Homo sapiens: one gene and its partner. The protein of the gene in region 1 purifies or fractionates together with the protein of each later gene. This does not show direct contact. Each region holds a gene or a part of one and is shown in the gene's direction. Other genes may lie near its edges.

Evidence for each region. The genes of interacting proteins can lie anywhere in the genome.
Region 2: the proteins of LOXL2 (region 1) and RPL22L1 purify together in Homo sapiens (affinity purification with mass spectrometry; 2 studies listed by BioGRID). This does not show direct contact.

Annotation. Positions count from the first base shown.
Region 1 is NC_000008.11:23,402,000-23,405,747, reverse strand, and holds the start of LOXL2 (lysyl oxidase homolog 2 precursor), read left to right. Parts: upstream 1-1,627; 5' UTR 1,628-1,794; intron 1,795-3,748. UniProt on the Homo sapiens protein: Mediates the post-translational oxidative deamination of lysine residues on target proteins leading to the formation of deaminated lysine (allysine).
Region 2 is NC_000003.12:170,868,250-170,871,997, reverse strand, and holds the start of RPL22L1 (ribosomal protein eL22-like), read left to right. Parts: upstream 1-1,802; 5' UTR 1,803-1,830; coding exon 1,831-1,839; intron 1,840-3,607; coding exon 3,608-3,700; intron 3,701-3,748.

The DNA of each region.
Region 1 (3,748 bases):
CGAGGCTGGAGTGCAGTGGCGGGATCTCGGCTCACTGCAAGCTCCGCCTCCCGGGTTCACCCCATTCTCCTGCCTCAGCTTCCCGAGTAGCTGGGACTACAGGCGCCCGCCACCACGCCCGGCTAATTTTTTGTATTTTTAGTAGAGACGGGGTTTCACCATGTTAGCCAGGATGGTCTCGATCTCCTGACCTTGTGATCCGCCTGCCTCGGCCTCCCAAAGTGCTGGGATTACAGGCATGAGCCACCGCACCCAGCCAGGATTCAGATTACATTTTGAGGACCTTGGAGCCACGGAGGATTTTTTTAAATTTTTAATTGAAATTTTATTGGGTGTATTACGTTCTATACAATTTTATCACCTGTGTGGTTTTCTGTATCTCAAGACACTGAATAGTTCCACCACCACAAAGATCCCTCCTCCTGCCTTTGATAACTACACCCCCTTCCTCTGACCCTTGCCCTCTACTGCCCACCAGAGTCAGGGACTGATCAGTGGGGAGGGTAAGGAGGAGGCAACGGAGAAGACCCCATATCTGCCTGGGAGAGCTCACAGGAGTCAAGGTGGACCGTGAGTTGCAGTGCCAAGTTTGGGGCTTGCCAGGTTAGCTACGGCCATGGGAATGTCCAGGTGAAAGTCTTTCGGGGCCAATGGATTTAAATATCCATGGCTTAGGAGAGAAGCCTGGGCTGGAGGTGAGATTTGGGAGGGGTTTGTCTCCTCAGGGAGTGGAGTAAGAGAGGACTGAGGAAGGAGCCGCCTTTCAGGTGACAGTCTACTTCTGCACAGGGGTCCCTTGTTTTGCAGCTCGCTGCCTCCTTGGGACTGGCAAAGCCCTGCTCTTGCTTAAGGAGCCCTCTCTGTGCAGAGGGCTCTCCCAGCATGCCCATCCCCCACCCGGAGCCTCAGAGCCAGGCACAGGAGGTCCTTCTGCACAATGGCCACGCATTAGCTGTGTCCTGTTCAGTCCCCAAGCACAGGGCTTGTTAATCCCAGCCCTACCATTCCAGGAAGGACCCCAGAGGTCACGGAATCCAAAGCGTTGAATTTACAAAGAAGAAAACTAGTCCTCGGAGAAGAGGCTTGGCCAAGGCCATAGACGTGATCTGCTGGCCGAAAGGGGGCTGTTTATTTACTGGTTCAGGATCGGTTTTCCCCCTACAGGAAAAGGGAGGTGAAACCCAGGCGAGATGGGTGCAAGTTTCTGAACACTTTCATTCGGCAGCTTTAATTGAGCGTGTATTATGTGCCAAGGAGGGCCAGGGTTTTCGGGATAGGAGGTGGACAAGGCACGGGCCCTAAGGCTGGTGGATAAGGACATCGAAGGGTTAAATTCTGGGACGGCTGCAGGGAGGAAAGGGTAGAGGAATCTCCCGAGGAAAGGCCCCCTTCCCGGCATCTCAGGCTCCGGAAACCCGGGCGCGAGGAGCCTGGGAAGGGCTGCCCCGCAGGCCTTGGCCTCCCCCGCGGAGCTCCCTCTGGCCCTGGGAGTGGCCGCTCTCGAATTACAACAAAAGAGGCCGGAGGCCGGGCCTGCTGCGGCGGCCGCCTTCGGGGAAGGGGGTGGGTCCGGGGAGGGGTTTGCCATCCTCCTCTAGTTAAAAGTAAGGGGGAAAAGAGTAAACGCGCGACTCCAGCGCGCGGCTACCTACGCTTGGTGCTTGCTTTCTCCAGCCATCGGAGACCAGAGCCGCCCCCTCTGCTCGAGAAAGGGGCTCAGCGGCGGCGGAAGCGGAGGGGGACCACCGTGGAGAGCGCGGTCCCAGCCCGGCCACTGCGGATCCCTGAAACCAAGTAAGAGCGCTTCCCGCGCCACCCCCTCCCCGAAGCGGTTCGCGAGAAAGCGGGAGCGTCCCTATGGGGTCTCCAGGCTTCGTCCTGCGCGGGGCTGCCTCTCGACAGTGCCTGGGGGTTCCCAAAGACTTCTTGCGGGGAGCGATGCGAGGACGTGCAGGCTAACGGGTCCTCCTGCCGCCCCGGGCGGCCCCGCCCAACCCCACCTCGTACGGGCCGGGCGCGGCGCGGCTGCTGGCGCGCCCGGGGAGCGAGGCGCTGGGTCCCTGGATCGTCCCGAGCGCCCGTAATCAGGCGGGACAGAGCCCGTCAAGTCTCGGTGTGTGCTGGGCGTCTTGGAGAGTGCAGCGTGGCTCCAGGGACAGCGTCTCCGGAATTCTGGCTTTGAGGAGTGGGGCACGCGGGGGACGGGTCGGGAGACAGTGACTGCCCTCGGGGCTGTGGTTTTGGGGATGTAGAGCGTGCTGGGCTGGGACGGAGTGGGGGCGGGGACCCCGGGGGCTGCGCCCGGGAGCTGTAGCGTCCACTGCTTGAACCCGGTTCAACCCCCAGCCTGCTCGAAAGGCTGTTGGGAGCGCGGGAGCGCCGTGAGTCCTGCGGGAGCAGAGGCGCTCTCGGCACGCCAGGTATGCACTCCCAAGTCGCCCTGCCTCTCCGGGGACCAGGGACCCTCTCCCGCCTTCATCACCTAGAAGCCCTGGAGTTGGAAAGAACGGGCACGAGCGAACCCACGGCTACAGCTGATCCCAATCTTGAGCCGTTGGTCCGGTGGTCTGAAGTGCCTACAACTTTTACGCAGGCGCTTTGCCCACCGCGCCCCTTCTCACCAGCCCAAATTTGGAAGCCCTCTGGGTGTGGCTGCCTGCTCGAGGTGTCCCAGGAATCAGCGCTGGAATAGAGATGATTGGGAGAACAAGCGAGGTTCCCTCCTCTCCGTGCCCGAGCTAAGACCATCAAAAAACAGCCGGAGTGCGGGGCGGAGCGGGGCGAGGGTGTGAGGAAGAGAACACCGCAGAACACGGCGAGGGAGGGGGCTGAACTACTCAATATGGTTAGGAAACCCCAAGTCCTGATGAGGGGAGAGATGTGCATGACAGAAACATGCTCCAAATTAGTTTCGTCCCTAAGATCTTGAAACTGCAGAGATCTCAAAAACAATACTTTTTTTTTTTTTCTCCCAGAGGAAGAAAAACGCTGAGGCTCACGGTCACTGAGTTAGTCAATGTGGGGACTGAAACCCATACCTCTTACTCCAGGCCCCTCCCCTACACCACTGCTAGCCTGTCCGTCCTGGAACCCCAAAACAACATTTGTCATCTTTGGTGGAATGAATTAGTTATTGATGGTGTATCATGTACTTAATGGTCAGGGTTGGGGTTTAGGGTGGAAGAGGAAGAGTTCATTTCCCTGGTCAGTTCCCAGATAAGTGACTGACTCACTGGATCCTAACTTGACTAAATTTTTAATCTTTCTCCTCACCTTTGTCCCGTTCCTCTTCCTGGTCCCTAGTATCTGCCCTGGAATGGCCACCAGAGCCATGACAAGATGCGTGCTCCCCATGGGCCCCAGTGGCTACCAAGGCTCTCCCCAAGGAAATTGAGTCTCACTAATCTGTGTGTGCACGCGCGCACGTTTGTGTATGCATGTGTGCACGTGTATGTGTGGGCACATGTATGTGTGCATGTGTGTGTCTCCACACGAGTGTGTTTGTGTATGTGTGTGCACCGGTGTGTGTTTATATGCGCACACAGGTGTGTGTGCGCGGGCACGTGTGTGTGCACGCAATGTGTGTGCATATGTATTCCTGTGTGCATGTGTGCACACCTGTATGTGTATATGTGTATTTGTGTTTGTGTGCATGTTTGCATGTGTATGTGTGTGTGCGCGTTTGTGCACTTGTGTGTATGTGTGTGCACGCATGTGTGCACGTGTGTATATGTATATGTGTGTTTGT
Region 2 (3,748 bases), on another chromosome or scaffold:
CATCATTATATATATTCATGTAACAAAACTGTACATGTACCCTCTGAATCTAAAATAAATGTTAAAATTTTTTTAATTAGCTGTCAAATTTTTAAAAAATAACTATAGGGTATTGACTAGCATTGTGTTACTATATACGTGTGCACACGCACAGTTTGGGAAGAACTGAATTATTTACAACTTTTAGTCTTCCCATCTGCACATTTCTCGCTAATATTCTTGTTTTTTTTTCTAATTGACAAACATTTTTCCCCCATTACAGTTTCTAACTAGTTATTTGGTGATTACTAGTTCTTGTGAAACAGGTATGTTTCCATATCCTCCTTGTACAAATGGCTTAATAGTGCTTAAGGAGTTTATTGTCAAGACATGGAAGACTGCTAAAGACAAGCAAAATAGAATCATTTCTGCCCCTCAGCTTAGGCAGCCCTTGAGGAGGAAATGCCAATTGCTCCCTTTAATGTTTGGAAAGAGAAATGTGATTATTGTAGCTCTTAAGGCAGACAACTAAAAAATCTTGTTGAAATGGATTTCTTCTAGGAATTCAGGGCCTCTCTTCAGACTCTACAAGTCATATGCTCTATTAAAGCATAGTTTCCACGATAACTACTTGCTGGCATAAAGGCCACGAACAGTTCTTACTTTCTGGGGTCATTCTTCAAATTAACAACAAAGTCCACCCCATCCCTTACCCCTACCCCTAGGTATGATAATTTCATCTCCACGAAAACATATTACTGCTAAACCCAAGCGGTTCAGCATGCCACTTTTCGGATCTGATGTCAATTTACAATCCTTCAAAGCTCAAAAGCTACTTTTTCCTTTTGTCAGCAAGACACTTCCACCCTCGTGTGTCTTGTACATACTGATAGGTCACAGCAAACATTCATTGAATTTTAACTGGGAGCATTTTGGATGGAAATCAAGAGACCTGGGATTAACTGTAAAACCCATGATAAATTATACCAAACGAATGAACAAGAAGCAAGCACTACGTGTTTTTCCCTTTGAGACAGTCTCACTGTTACCCAGGCTGGAGTGCAGTGGCTCGATCTCGACTCACTGCAACTTCCGCCTCTCAAGGTAAAGCGATGCTCCTGCCTCAGCCTCCCGAGTGGCTGGGAGTACAGACGCGCACCACCACGCGGGCCATTTTTTTTAAAATTGTTTGTAGAGACGGGTTCTCCCTATGCCTACGCTGCCAAGGGTGGTCTCGAACTCCTGGGCTCAAGAGATTCTCCGGCCTCGGCCTCCCAAAGTGCTGGGATTACAGGCGTGGGCGTGTAAGCATATATATACATGATTTTTTTTTCCCGAGGACCTGGTCCCCGAAGCACCAATTTCCCTCAACAGTCATTTAGAAAACGAGGCTCACAGACAAAACACAAACAAATAACTTTTTCGCTGGAGGATTATAACTGCAATAAAAGGAGATCCCAAAGCAACCTGAGACACTGCCTTGCCCTGATTGGAAAGGGGATTCCGGTGATTAGTGAAAGATGACTCCTGCATCCCTCGCGTGCGTCCGTATCCGGGAGCAGCCACTAGGTAACTGTAGAGGCCACTGCAATTAATCGGCTTGAACAGCCAGGAGCGGAAACCCGAGAGTCAGTTCAACCACAGCCACCCGCGTGTGCCCGCGGAAAGCCGATGGCCTACTCTCGTCCGGCAGCGCACTGGTTTCCTGGGTTACCGGCCTCAGCGCTCCTCCCGCTTTCTTTTCCGGGAGGCGACAATCTGACGCTCTCAGCGCGTGACGCAGCACGCTTTGATATAAATGCAGACCGCGCGGCCGTAGCTTCCTCTCTGCTCTCGCGGCCGACTCGCAAGATGGCGCCGGTGAGTGAGCGATGTCTTGGTGGGAGTGTTGTGTGGCAATTTAATGATTTCCGCTGTAACGATTTTTGCATCTGTCGAGTGGAGACGTCTCAGTCAAGATAAAGGGAGGGGAGTAGTGAAGTCTGGGTCAGAAACACAACCAAGACGCGAGGATCCTGAACTGTTTTTCGAGACTCCCTGGCAGCTGCCATGAGGTCTAGTGGAGTTGGAGCTGGGCCCGGAATTGGTTTAGGATGGGTGGTTTTGGACACGCGGGAAAGAGGGAGGCACAACTGTAAATGGGCCGGTGGTACTGCAATCTGAGCCATTTCTTTACTATCTCGCGCCTGATAATGCTTTTGCCACTCAGCACTGGGTAGGGGAATGGTGGGTAATCGGGCCGGTCTGACGACCTTTGCCAGGCCAGAGGGAGCTCCTAGGCGCTCAGCTCCCGCGATGGCCGACATCACAAGTTTTTGAGAACTTTCAGTTGGGGAAGAAGTTTCTCGGTGAAGTAATTTTTAGAAAAGTATAAGTCTAGATTCCAGCAATGTGAAATAAACGTGCTTCAGATGTTTTACTTAAGTCATTAGTAAGGGAACCAGTAAGATGTTAAAATGTTCCTAAGAATATCTGAAAAGCTAGATATACATGCGCAATTTACAAATAAAGTTAGGATAAAATTGCTGGGCTAGCTACAAAACTGGGTAATGCCCAGCATGGCCATAAACCCTATAGGGTTATCTGTTCCATTAGACAGAAGTTGTTTGTGTCTCCCAAATTAACTTCTGCGCCAACTGGGTAATTATCTTTTGGCACATGTTACCATGCTACCTGAGAAAGCAAACTAATGTGTAATACTTGGTAGCCACTTGGGTGAATCTAAATTGGAGGTTATAGTCTGATAAATACAGATTTGTTTGTTCATATTGCAGTGAATGTACATGGTTGCTGGCCACAGTAACATTTTGCTTATGTAGCCATATTATATGGTCTTGGTATAAAAGGTTTGGATATGGAAAATTTAAGTTCCACGGTGTTGGTTTTTAGGTTTTTTTTTTTTTTTGAGACAGAGTCTGTTGCCCAGGTGGGAGTATAGTGGCATGATCAGGCTCACTACAACCTCCGCCTCCCGGGTTCAAGCAATCCTCCCGACTCAGCCTCCTGAATAGCTAGGATTATAAGCATGCACCACCACACCTGGCTAATTTTTGTATTTTTACTAGAGATGGGGTTTCACCATGTTGGCCAGGCTGGCCTTGAACTCCTGACCTCACGTGATCCTCCTGCCTCAGCCTCCCAAAGTGCTGGGACGGCACCTTGCCTTTTTTATTTTTATTTTTTCTTTTTCTTTTCTTTTCTTTTTTTTTTTTTTTACCAAAGTCCCCTTCCCTTGCCTATAATAACGTAAGAATTGAATTTTCTAGACATAGGTGGGTGGAATCCTAGCTCTGGCACTTACCTGAGCTTGGGCTAGGCAGTATACTAACCTATTCCCATCTGCAGTGGGGTGGCAGAAAAGCACGATAATTTAAAATTGATCATTGGTAGTATAGAAAACAATGAAAGTCCGTAACTTTTTGACAACTTGAACATATTAGGACTTGGTTAGAGGTTCAAATCAACCCCGGCGTGGGTAGTGGTGGTGTTTTTTTATTTATTGTTACATTTCTGTATATGTAACCTAACAGTACATTGTACAGATTGCATTGGTACAAACTTTAAAATTGTTTATATAAATTGAATAAGTTGTTTTATATAGCTACATAATTATTTCTCATTTATGTAGCAGAAAGACAGGAAGCCCAAGAGGTCAACCTGGAGGTTTAATTTGGACCTTACTCATCCAGTAGAAGATGGAATTTTTGATTCTGGAAATTTTGTAAGTATCATTCTACTCGGCTTATTTTTGTAATCAGAGTTATTGATA